3 linked regions of the Homo sapiens genome follow. The protein of the gene in region 3 purifies or fractionates together with the protein of the main gene of each other region. This does not show direct contact. Each region holds a gene or a part of one and is shown on either strand. Other genes may lie near its edges.

Region 1 (3,655 bases), on a different chromosome or scaffold from region 3:
TTCATGCAGAAATCCTCCACTGTGGTCCTGGAGTAAGGAAGCACCACTGGGGATGTGTAATCTGGTAACTGGCCTTTGGGTTTGGTGTAACTAGAATAGAGAGGGCATAAAGATTACTGCCTTCTTAGACTATCTCATGTGTTGAATGTATAGCAACCCTCCATCACCCCTGACATCAGACCAGGACAACCTCCAACTTAAGGGAAAAAGTGTCCTCAATATGACCTAATGACCTAGTAGATAATAGGAACCAATTTACTTATATTTTCAAAAAGAGCCAGATTTTGTTAATGAGCTCCAGAAAGTATCATTTTAGGACAGTCTGGTTAATTCCTATAGCAACATTACCCTATCCACAAAGACTTACATTCTCACTAGTTTCAGATAGTCCCAGATCTTTTCCAATAGGTCATCAAAATTCCAGCGGTGATGGGCAGAGATGGGTACACAGTGAGGCACCTTATAGATGATATCCAATTCCTCAATGGAGATTTGGTCAATCTTATTTAACACATAGATACAGGGGATATAAACTCTACAGAAAGTGAAGAAAAACAGGGTATTAGTCTGGAGTTGTTGACAGAACTGTCAGACTGTTGAACAGCACACCCTCACCCAGACCCAACTGGCGCTCCCAAGAGGGACTGTAAGTAGCAGATCAGCCAGAAAAAGAAAAAAGAAAAAGAAAAAGTGAACTATGGGTTGAAAAGTAACAGAAGTCAGGCCCTAGTACCAGCCACAAAGCTAACTGCTAGGAAAGCATACTGCAGTGGAAAGAACACAAGCTTTGAAGTGCTCAGACTGATTCTAATCCCAGCTGGCCCTCCAAATATGCAGGTTTTGCATCCCTGAATTCAACCAACTGCAGATCAAAAACCCACAGACACGGAGGGTCAGCTGTACTATACCATTTTATATAAGGGCCTTGAGCATCTGCAGGTTTCATTATCTGCAAGGGGTCCTGGAAGCAATCCTCTGTGGATATGAAGAGGTGATGTTATGTGTCCCTAGGAAAGTCACTTAACCTCTGAGTCAGTTTCCTACAAGGCTGTTTTAAAACATAATTTATACTTAAAGACTAAAAAATAAGTGTTTTATTTATTGGTACAATAAATAATATTGGTAAAACTGATATAGCATCTACCAATGTCATATTCCTAGTGTCCAATCAATATGACAGCTAAGGTTACTACTAATTAGGCAAGCCACAACTTCTCAGGTTTAACTGCCTCACTTGTAAAATGCCTAACTGAAAACACTGGCTTCTGTTTGTTTTCAAATGAGGAGTAAGTACACTCATCCAACATACAGGAACAAATGACTAGGAGAGCAACTAAAAATATTACATGCAAATGCTATGAGTAATTTTAACAGTGACTTAACTTATTAAAGTCTCAGTAATATTAATGGGCTGGGCATAGTGGCTTATGCCTATAATCCCAACACGTTGGGAGGCCAAGGCAGGCAGATTGCTTGAGCCCAGGAGTTCAAGACCAGTCTCGGCAACGTGGTGAAACAACATCTCTACAAAAAATACAAAAATTAGCCTGGCTTGGTGGCACACGCCCATAGTCCCAGCTACTCAGGAGGTTGAGGTGGGAGGATGGATTGAGCCCGGGAGTTCAAGGCTGCGGTAAGCCGTGATCACACCACTGCACTACAGCCTGGGCGACAAGAGCATGACTCTGTCTCAAAAAAAAAAAAAAAAAGTAATGTATCATGAAACAGATATTCAGCTACATACTCTTAGGATGGAGAAAACAGACACAGCCTGGCCTGCTCGGACTTCTGTAGGACACAGCCTATATAACTTCTCAGGTGGATTAATTCTGGAAGAGCAGACTGACCTACTACTTTCTTCAACTATCACATGACAAAGTTTAGGGGGCAGCTTAGTTTACAGCAAGTAACTGAAACGGAGAATTTCATAGGAAGAGGCTGTAAAAGAAAAAAACTGAAATGGGGAATATGACCATCATAATTAAATTTAAAAGCAAGGAAGGATGTCAGAAATAAAAACTAATCCCTCAGTTTACCCCTAAAGAAACCAAAGCCAGCAGGCAGGGTGACTGACGCCTGTAATCCCAGCACTTTGGGAGGCAGAGGCAGGCAGACTGCCTGAGGTTTGAGACCAGCCTGGCTAACATGGAGAAACCCCGTCTCTACTAAAAATACAAAAATTAGCTGGGTATGGTGGCGGACACCTGTAGTCCCAGCTACTTGGGAGGCTGAGGCAGGGGAATTGCTTGAACCCGGGAGGCAGAGGTTGCAGTGAGCTGAAATCGTGCCACTGCACTCCAGCCTGGGGGACAAAGCAAGACTCCAAAAAAAAAAAAAAGGGGGGGGGGGCGGGTGCCGGGCACAGCAGCTCATACCTGTAATCCCAGCACTTTGGGAGGCTGAGGTGGGTAGATCACCTGAAGTCAGGAGTTCAAGACCAGCCTGGCCAACATGAAACCCCATCTCTACTAAAAATACAAAAAATTAGCCAGATGTAGTGGCAGGCGCCTATAATCCCAGCTACTCAGGGGGCTGAGGCCGAAGAATCACTTGAACCCAGGAGGTGGAGGTTGCAGTGAGCCAAGATCGCGCCACTGTACTCCAGCCCAGGTGACAGAGTGAGACTCTTGTCTCACAAAAAAAAAAAAAAAAAAAAAAAAAGAAACCAAAGCCCCACTATCATTTAAGATAGTAACACAGGCTGGACGCAGTGGCTCATGTCTGTAATCCTAACATTCTGGCAGGCCAAGGCAGGCGGATCACTTGAGGTCAGGAGTTTGAGACCAGTCTGGCCAACATGATGAAACCCCGTCTCTACTAAAAATACAAAATTAGCTGGGCATGGTGGTGCACACCTGTAATCTCAGCTACTTGGGAGGCTGAGGCAGCAGAATCGCTTGAACCTGGGAGGCGGAGGAGGTTACAGTGAGCTGAGATCACACCATTGCACTCCAGCCTGGGTGACAGAGTAAGACTCTGTCTCAAAAAAAAAAGGCCGGGCTCACACCTGTAAACCCAGCACTTTGGGAGACCGAGGTGGGGTGGATCACCTGAGGTCAGGAGTTCGAAACCAGCCTGACCAACACGGAGAAACCCCATCTCTATTAAAAATACAAAATTAGCCAGGCGTGGCGGCACAGGCCTGTAATCCCAGCTACTCAGGAAGGCTGAGGGAGGAGAATCGCTTGAACCTGGAAGTGGAGGTTGCAGTGAGCCGAGACTGCGCCACTGCACTCCAGCCTGGCTAACAAGAGCGAAACTCTATCTCAAAAAAAAAAAAAAAAAAGAAACCAAAGCCCACTATCATTTAAGATAGTAGCACAGGCTGGACACAGTGGCTCATGCCTGTAATCCCAACATTTTGGGAGGCCGAGGCAGACGGATCACTTGAGGTCAGGAGTTCAAGACCAGCCTGGCCAACATGATGAAACCCCATCTCTACTAAAAATACAAAAATTAGCTGGGCGTGGTGGTGCGCACCTGTAATCCTAGCTACTCGGGAGGCTGAGGCAGAAGAATCTCTTGAACCTGGGAGGTGGAGCTTGCAGTGAGCTGAGATCACGCCACTGCACTCTAGCCTGGGCAACAGAGTGAGACTCCATCTCAAAAAAAAAAAAAAAAAAAAAGACAGTAGGACAACTGGAATTAAGATAAA
Region 2 (3,655 bases), on a different chromosome or scaffold from region 3:
AGCATGAACAAAACCCTATTTTTTTTTTTAGCTATTTCAAGTGATTGTGACAACTTCAACGGAGATGTAAACAGTTTATTAACAGTCACACCTATTATCTTTTTTTTTTTTTTTTTTTTTTGAGACGGAGTCTTGCTCTGTCGCCCAGGCTGGAGTGCAGTGGCACGATCTCTGCTTACTGCAACCTTTGCCTCCCGGGTTCAAGTGATTCTCCTGCCTCAGCCTCCTGAGTAGCTGGGTCTACATGCGCACACCACCACGCCTGGCTAATTTTTGTATTTTTAGTAGAGACAGGGTTTCACCATGTTGGCTAGAATGGTCTCAAACTCCTGACCTCAGGTGATCCACCTGCCTCAGCCTCCCAAAGTTCTGGGATTACAGGCATGAGCCACCGTGCTTGGCCGCTGCCGTATCTTTTTAAATGAAAGTACTTGTGTTTTTTTTGTTTTTTTCCAAAGGATATCTGGGTCATCTATGATGTTACTGTTACCATCTAAGGGTTTTTTTGTTTGTTTTTGAGACAGAGTCTCTGTCGCCCAGGCTGGAGTGCAGTGGCGTGATCTTGGCTCACTGCAACCTCCGCCTCCCAGGTTCAAGCAATTCTCCTGCCTTAGCCCTCCCGAATAGCTGGGATTACAGGCACCCGCCACCATGCCTGGCTAAGTTTTGCATTTTTAGTAGATATGGAGTTTCACCATGTTGGCCAGGCTGCTCTTGAACTCCTGACCTCAGGTGATTCGCTTGCCTCGGCCTCCCAAAGTGCTGGGATTACAGGCGTGAGCCACCCCCGCCCAGCCTCATGAGCTAAGGTGTTTTTTTTTTTTTTGAGACAGTTTTGCTCTTTCCCAGGCTGGAGTGCAGTGGTGCAATCTCAGCTCACTGCAACCTCTGTTTCCCGGGTTCAAGCGATTCTCCTGCCTCAGCCTTCTGAGTAGCTGAGATTACAGGTGCCTGCTACCCCACTCAGCTAATTTTTGTATTTTTAGCAGAGACAGGGTTTCACCATGTTGGTTAGGCTCATCTCGAACTCCTGACCTTAAGCGATCCACCTGCCTTGGCCTCCCAAAGTGCTGGGATTATAGGCATGAGCCACCGTGCGCAGCCTACCCTGTCTCTTAAAAAACAGTAACAACAACAACAACAACAAAAAATCCTAAATCTTAAAAATGGAAGGCAAAAACTCTAAGCTTTGAGAGATTAGGGGACTTGCCCAAAGCAATATTTGTAGGATTTTATTACACCTCTCCCTTTATTTATTTTTTTAGAGTCAAGGTCTCCCTCTGTCACCCAGGCTGGAGTGCAGCCTCAATCTATGGGGCCAAGCATTTCTCCTGTCTTAGCCTCCTGAGTAGCTGGAACTACAGGTGTACACCAGCTGGCTAACATTTAAATTTTTTGTAGAGACAGGGTCCTGCCATGTTGCCCAGATTGGTCTCAAACTCCTGGGCTCAAGTGATCCTCCTGCCTCAGCTTCCCAAAGTGCTGAGATTACAGGTGTGAGCCACTGCACCGAGCCCCCTCCCTTTATTTTTATTTTTAAATTTTAAGTTCTGGGGCCCCTCCCTTGAAATAAATAGAAACGTAATATATACACAAGATCATGCTGTGTATTTTAAGGCAATGGTCCTCAACCTTTTTAACACTAGGGACCGGTTTTGTGGAAGATGGTTTTTCCATAGGGGCAGGGGATGATTTTGAGATGAAACTGTTCCACCGGCCGGGCACGGTGGCTCACGCCTGTAATCCCAGCACTTTGGGAGGCCGAGGCGGGCAGATCACGAGGTCAGGAGATCGAGACCATCCTGGCTAACATGGTGAAACCCCCCTCTACTAAAAATACAAAAAAATTAGCTGGGCGCGGTGGAGGGCGCCTGTAGTCACAGCTACTCCGGAGGCCGAGGCAAGAGAATGGCATGAAACCCGGGAGGCAGAGCTTGCAGTGAGCTGAGATAGCACCACTGTACTTCAGCCTGGGGGACAAAGTGAGACTCCGTCTAAAAAAAAAAAAATTGTTCCACCTCAGATCATTATGCATTTGTTAGATTCTCATAAAGAGCATACAACCTACATCTCTTGCTATATGCAGTTCCCAGTAGGGTTTGTGCTTCTATAAGAACCTAATGCTGCACCTGATCTAACAGGTGGGGCTCAGGTGCTAATGCTCACACAGCTCCTGTTGTGCAGTCTGGTTCCTAACAGGCCTGTTTTTTTTTTTTTAATTAGATGGAGTCTCGCTCTGTCACCAGGCTGGAGTGCAGTGGCACGATCTCAGCTCACTGCAACCTCTGCCTCCCGGGTTCAAGCGATTCTCCTGCCTTAGCCTCCCATGTAGTTGGTACTACAGGCGCACACTGTGATGCCCAGCTAATTTTTGTATTTTTAGTAGAGACGGGGTTTCACCATGTTGGCCAGGATGGTGTCGATCTCCTGACCTTGTGATCCGCCCAACAGCCTCCCAAAGTGCTGGAATTACAGGCGTGAGCTGCTGCGTCCGGCCCCCTAACAGGCTTGTTTTATGGAATACAGTCACGGACAGTACTTGCCCTTCAGGATATCTTTTTGTAACCTTGATTTTGGCTTGCTAAAATAGGAGGTCTATTTTCTTTTCTTTGTTTTTAATGTATGTGGTTCTGTACTTACGTGGTGTGAAATCTACATAAATGTTAAATCCTTGGTTATTTATTTATTTTGAGACAGAGTCTCACTCTGTCACCCAGTCTGGAAAGCAGTGGCATAATCTCGGCTCACTGTAACCTCCACTTCCCAGGTTCCAGTGATTCTCCTGCCTCAGCCTCCTGAGTAGCTGGGATTACAGGCATGCACCACTACACCTGGCAAATTTTTGTATTTTTTTTTAGTAGAGATGGGGTTTCACCATGTTGGCCAGGCTCGTCTTGAACTCCTGACCTTAGGTGATCTGCCTGTCTTGGCCTCCCAAAGTTTTGGGATTACAGCATGAGCCACTGCGCCTCGCCTTATTTTTTTGAGACAGGTTCTAGCTCTGTCACCCAGGCGGGAGTGCAGTGGTGCCATCATGGCTCATTGCAACCTCGAGTTCTCAGGCCCAAGTGATCCTCCTATCTCAGCCTCCTGAGTAGCTGGGACCACAGGCATGCGCCACTATGCCCAGCAAAATTTTTGTTTCACTCTGTTGCCTAGGGTGGGGTGCAGTGGCAGGATATCGGCTCAGTGCAACCTCTGCCTCTTGCGTTCAAATGATTCTCATGCCTCAGCCTCCCGAGTAGCTGGGATTATAGGCATGCGCCACTACACCTGGCTAATTTTTGTATTATTGGTAGAGATGGGGTTTTATCATGTTGGCCAGGCTGGTCTCGAACTCCCGACCTCAGGTGATCCATATACCTTGGCCTCCTGAAGTGCTGGAATTACAGGCATAAGCCACTGCGCCTAGCTTTTTTGTTTGTTTTTATTTTGTAGGGACAGAGATTTTACCTGTTGCCCAGGATGGCCTTGAATTCCTGACCTCAAACAATTTGCCCTCCTTGGCCTCCCAAGGTGCTGGGATTACAGGTGTGAGCCACTATGCCTGGCTGGTTTTTTAAATTATTATTATTGTTTGTGTGTGTGTGTTGCAGGATCTTACCCTGTCACCCAGGCTGGAATGCAGTGATGTGATCTCGGCTTACTGCAACCT
Region 3 (2,563 bases):
ACATTCCTTTTTTTGCTTTTAAGGGGGACATATTTTTTATACTTTGTATCTTGGCCACTGGGAAAGAATAATAATTTCTCAGCTTTCTAACTTGCTTCAGGCTCTCTTCTTGGTTGTTTGCCAAATGTCCATGCTCATTCTGTTTTCCTCTTTGCTTTTTCTTTTGATTCTTTGTTTCTTGTCTTGCCTATTTCCTACCATTCCTTTGCCTTTTTTTGTTTAAAGCATTCAGTAATTACCAGCCAGAAACAGTTTTCATTCTCAACAAAGTAACTACATCAGTAACAGGTATACTCTTTGTCTCTCCATAATTGAAGTTTCTATTGTACAGGCTACTTAAAAAATAATTTTTTTTAAGATTTTTCGGTTCTGAAATTTCAGGACACCTAATGGCTGTTCTTGAATAACACAAGTATTACCGCTCTTGGAAAGGAGAGCCAAGAGGGCTCATTAGCTGCAAAGAGGGGCAACAGGAACACCCTTAGCAAGTTCAGTCAGGTTAGCTGCTTTAAAGTACTGCCAGAAAAGTTTCACTATACTATCATGTTTTTATGAAAGGTACCAAATCAGAGTTAAGATATTTGAAGCTGAGAACCCTTTTAACCACAGACCAAATATAAAACTGTCACTAGTCTTAGGCTAAGCCACCAAAGCCAATTTACACCACAGAGTAACTCATTTTGCTAAGAGTATTGCCTGCTACAGAGGACAAAAAGGAAGGCCCAAGAGGCCTAGAAAGCTGCCACCGCAAACATCAGAGCAGACACAGGACAAGCAGGAAAGGAAGGGGAGGGCCTCTGGCAGCAGGCACTTGCAAGCACAGGGGGATGTAGTCAGTTTTTCAAAGCCAGAGGATACTGAACAGACACCCATTTGAAAATGTTTCATGGGTTAAACTGAATATGAAGTAAACAAAAAGTACACCACATTTAAACCTAGTCCTAAATTTTAATCTATATACATTTCTATCTGCCTCCTTTTTGCATGTCACCAGCAAACAATGTATAATCTTTTAAAAGTGCTAAAAGGATTTTTTTTACACATCTGTATTCTTACAGATATATAATTTGTGATGTCATGACACATAAAAATCACAATTTTCATGTAATTTAGAGGCCCTCCCAAAAATCCCTTCTAAATGTATTTTACCAAAATCTCATACAAGTGTTTAATTAATCCCTTGATTTGAAACTTCTTTTGGATAACGTTTTTGGAACTACTCAAATGTTAAAGAGCATACACCTTCTTCAGTTCTTAACATGGACAAAGACCTACTGTTTTTCATCTCCAGCAGTGCATTTTTTTTTTGTCAAGAAATTTATTAACCTTTATAAACACTATTTTCACTCAATCATTCATAAAAAATGATTTGTGATTAAATCTGTAATAAAACCATATAACGTTCATCAATGCATTCAATAAGACCAGTTTCTTCCATGGAACATAATAAACCACTTTAAAACAGCAGTTTTCATTCATGTCATATAAGGCTGTCAAACTAAAAGTATTCCTTATAATGAGTTGTTACCCAAGAAATCCATCTCACTTCCCGTGATGTGGAGCCTGGTGATGTGCCCTCTAAGAGTTGGGTCTGAAAGAAGACTCTGCCCCTTTATGGCCACCTCCCCAGTCTCTCTCAAACAAGTTTCACAACAGGAAAATATTTATGAGCAGAGAAATCAAATTCAGGAGGAACCTGTTAAAGAAAAACGAAACTCAATTAATGTATCTACAAATATTCAGATGGTACACAAAACAAAGACTATTTTTATTTTAGAGTTTCTTGTGTTCTTAGAAACAAGGCAGCACAAAATAGATTTTAAAAACTAGGTTAATGACAAAAAAGGTAGGAACTAACCTGGAAGAAAAACGATTAATTTGTTTTTGAGTTTTATGAAGATCATAAGAAAACAGGCTGACCAGCTGTTTTCTATCTTCAAAGAACAGTTAAAAGATAAATAGTCAAAAATTATAGGAAAGGCATTCAGTTAGATCAGGGGTCAGCACACTTTTTAGCTCCAGGTAACTGATAGAACTAAGCAATGAGATGAGAGTCAGTCAGTAGGAAACCAGGGCAGGAGAGGAGGAAGGCAGATCACAGGAAACAATGGAAGAAAAGGTGCACAACACACACAGGCAAATGCCCCCACGGTGCCTCCGCGGCTGGCCTCTCCACAGCGCAGAATCTCTGCTCTGAAATGATGACGTAGCATGGATGATATAACATTACCAAGAAAAGCTTAGACTCTTCCTCTTCTGAGCCATTACAAAGAAGTCTTTCATTATTAAAGCATTCACTTTCCCAAAGGCAGATGACTTTTAAATACCTCATACTTCTCCCATAAAATTTCTTTACATAAATTTTCTTTTTTTACCCCAAGTTATTCAGTAATTTACACAGCAAGGAGATGGAAAACGTATAGGCAGACTTTAGAAATTTTAACTCAACAAAATACACATCTCAAGACAAAATGGCAAGCTCTAATTTTTTGCTGCTGAACTAAAATTTTTAGAATGATTTTTGTTCAGTGGTTTAATTTTTCCTGTAATATTTACACATCTT

Evidence for each region.
Region 1: the proteins of NAA35 (region 3) and DRG1 fractionate together in Homo sapiens (co-fractionation; one large-scale study listed by BioGRID). This does not show direct contact.
Region 2: the proteins of NAA35 (region 3) and ATXN2 fractionate together in Homo sapiens (co-fractionation; one large-scale study listed by BioGRID). This does not show direct contact.

Annotation. Positions count from the first base shown.
Region 1 is NC_000022.11:31,423,495-31,427,149, reverse strand, and holds part of DRG1 (developmentally-regulated GTP-binding protein 1), read right to left. Parts: intron 536-3,655; coding exon 368-535; intron 91-367; coding exon 1-90. UniProt on the Homo sapiens protein: Catalyzes the conversion of GTP to GDP through hydrolysis of the gamma-phosphate bond in GTP. Appears to have an intrinsic GTPase activity that is stimulated by ZC3H15/DFRP1 binding likely by increasing the affinity for the potassium ions.
Region 2 is NC_000012.12:111,589,249-111,592,903, reverse strand, and holds part of ATXN2 (ataxin-2), read left to right. Parts: intron 1-3,655. UniProt on the Homo sapiens protein: Involved in EGFR trafficking, acting as negative regulator of endocytic EGFR internalization at the plasma membrane.
Region 3 is NC_000009.12:86,021,034-86,023,596, reverse strand, and holds part of NAA35 (N-alpha-acetyltransferase 35, NatC auxiliary subunit), read right to left. Parts: intron 1,697-2,563; coding exon 1,637-1,696; 3' UTR 1-1,636. UniProt on the Homo sapiens protein: Auxillary component of the N-terminal acetyltransferase C (NatC) complex which catalyzes acetylation of N-terminal methionine residues. N-terminal acetylation protects proteins from ubiquitination and degradation by the N-end rule pathway.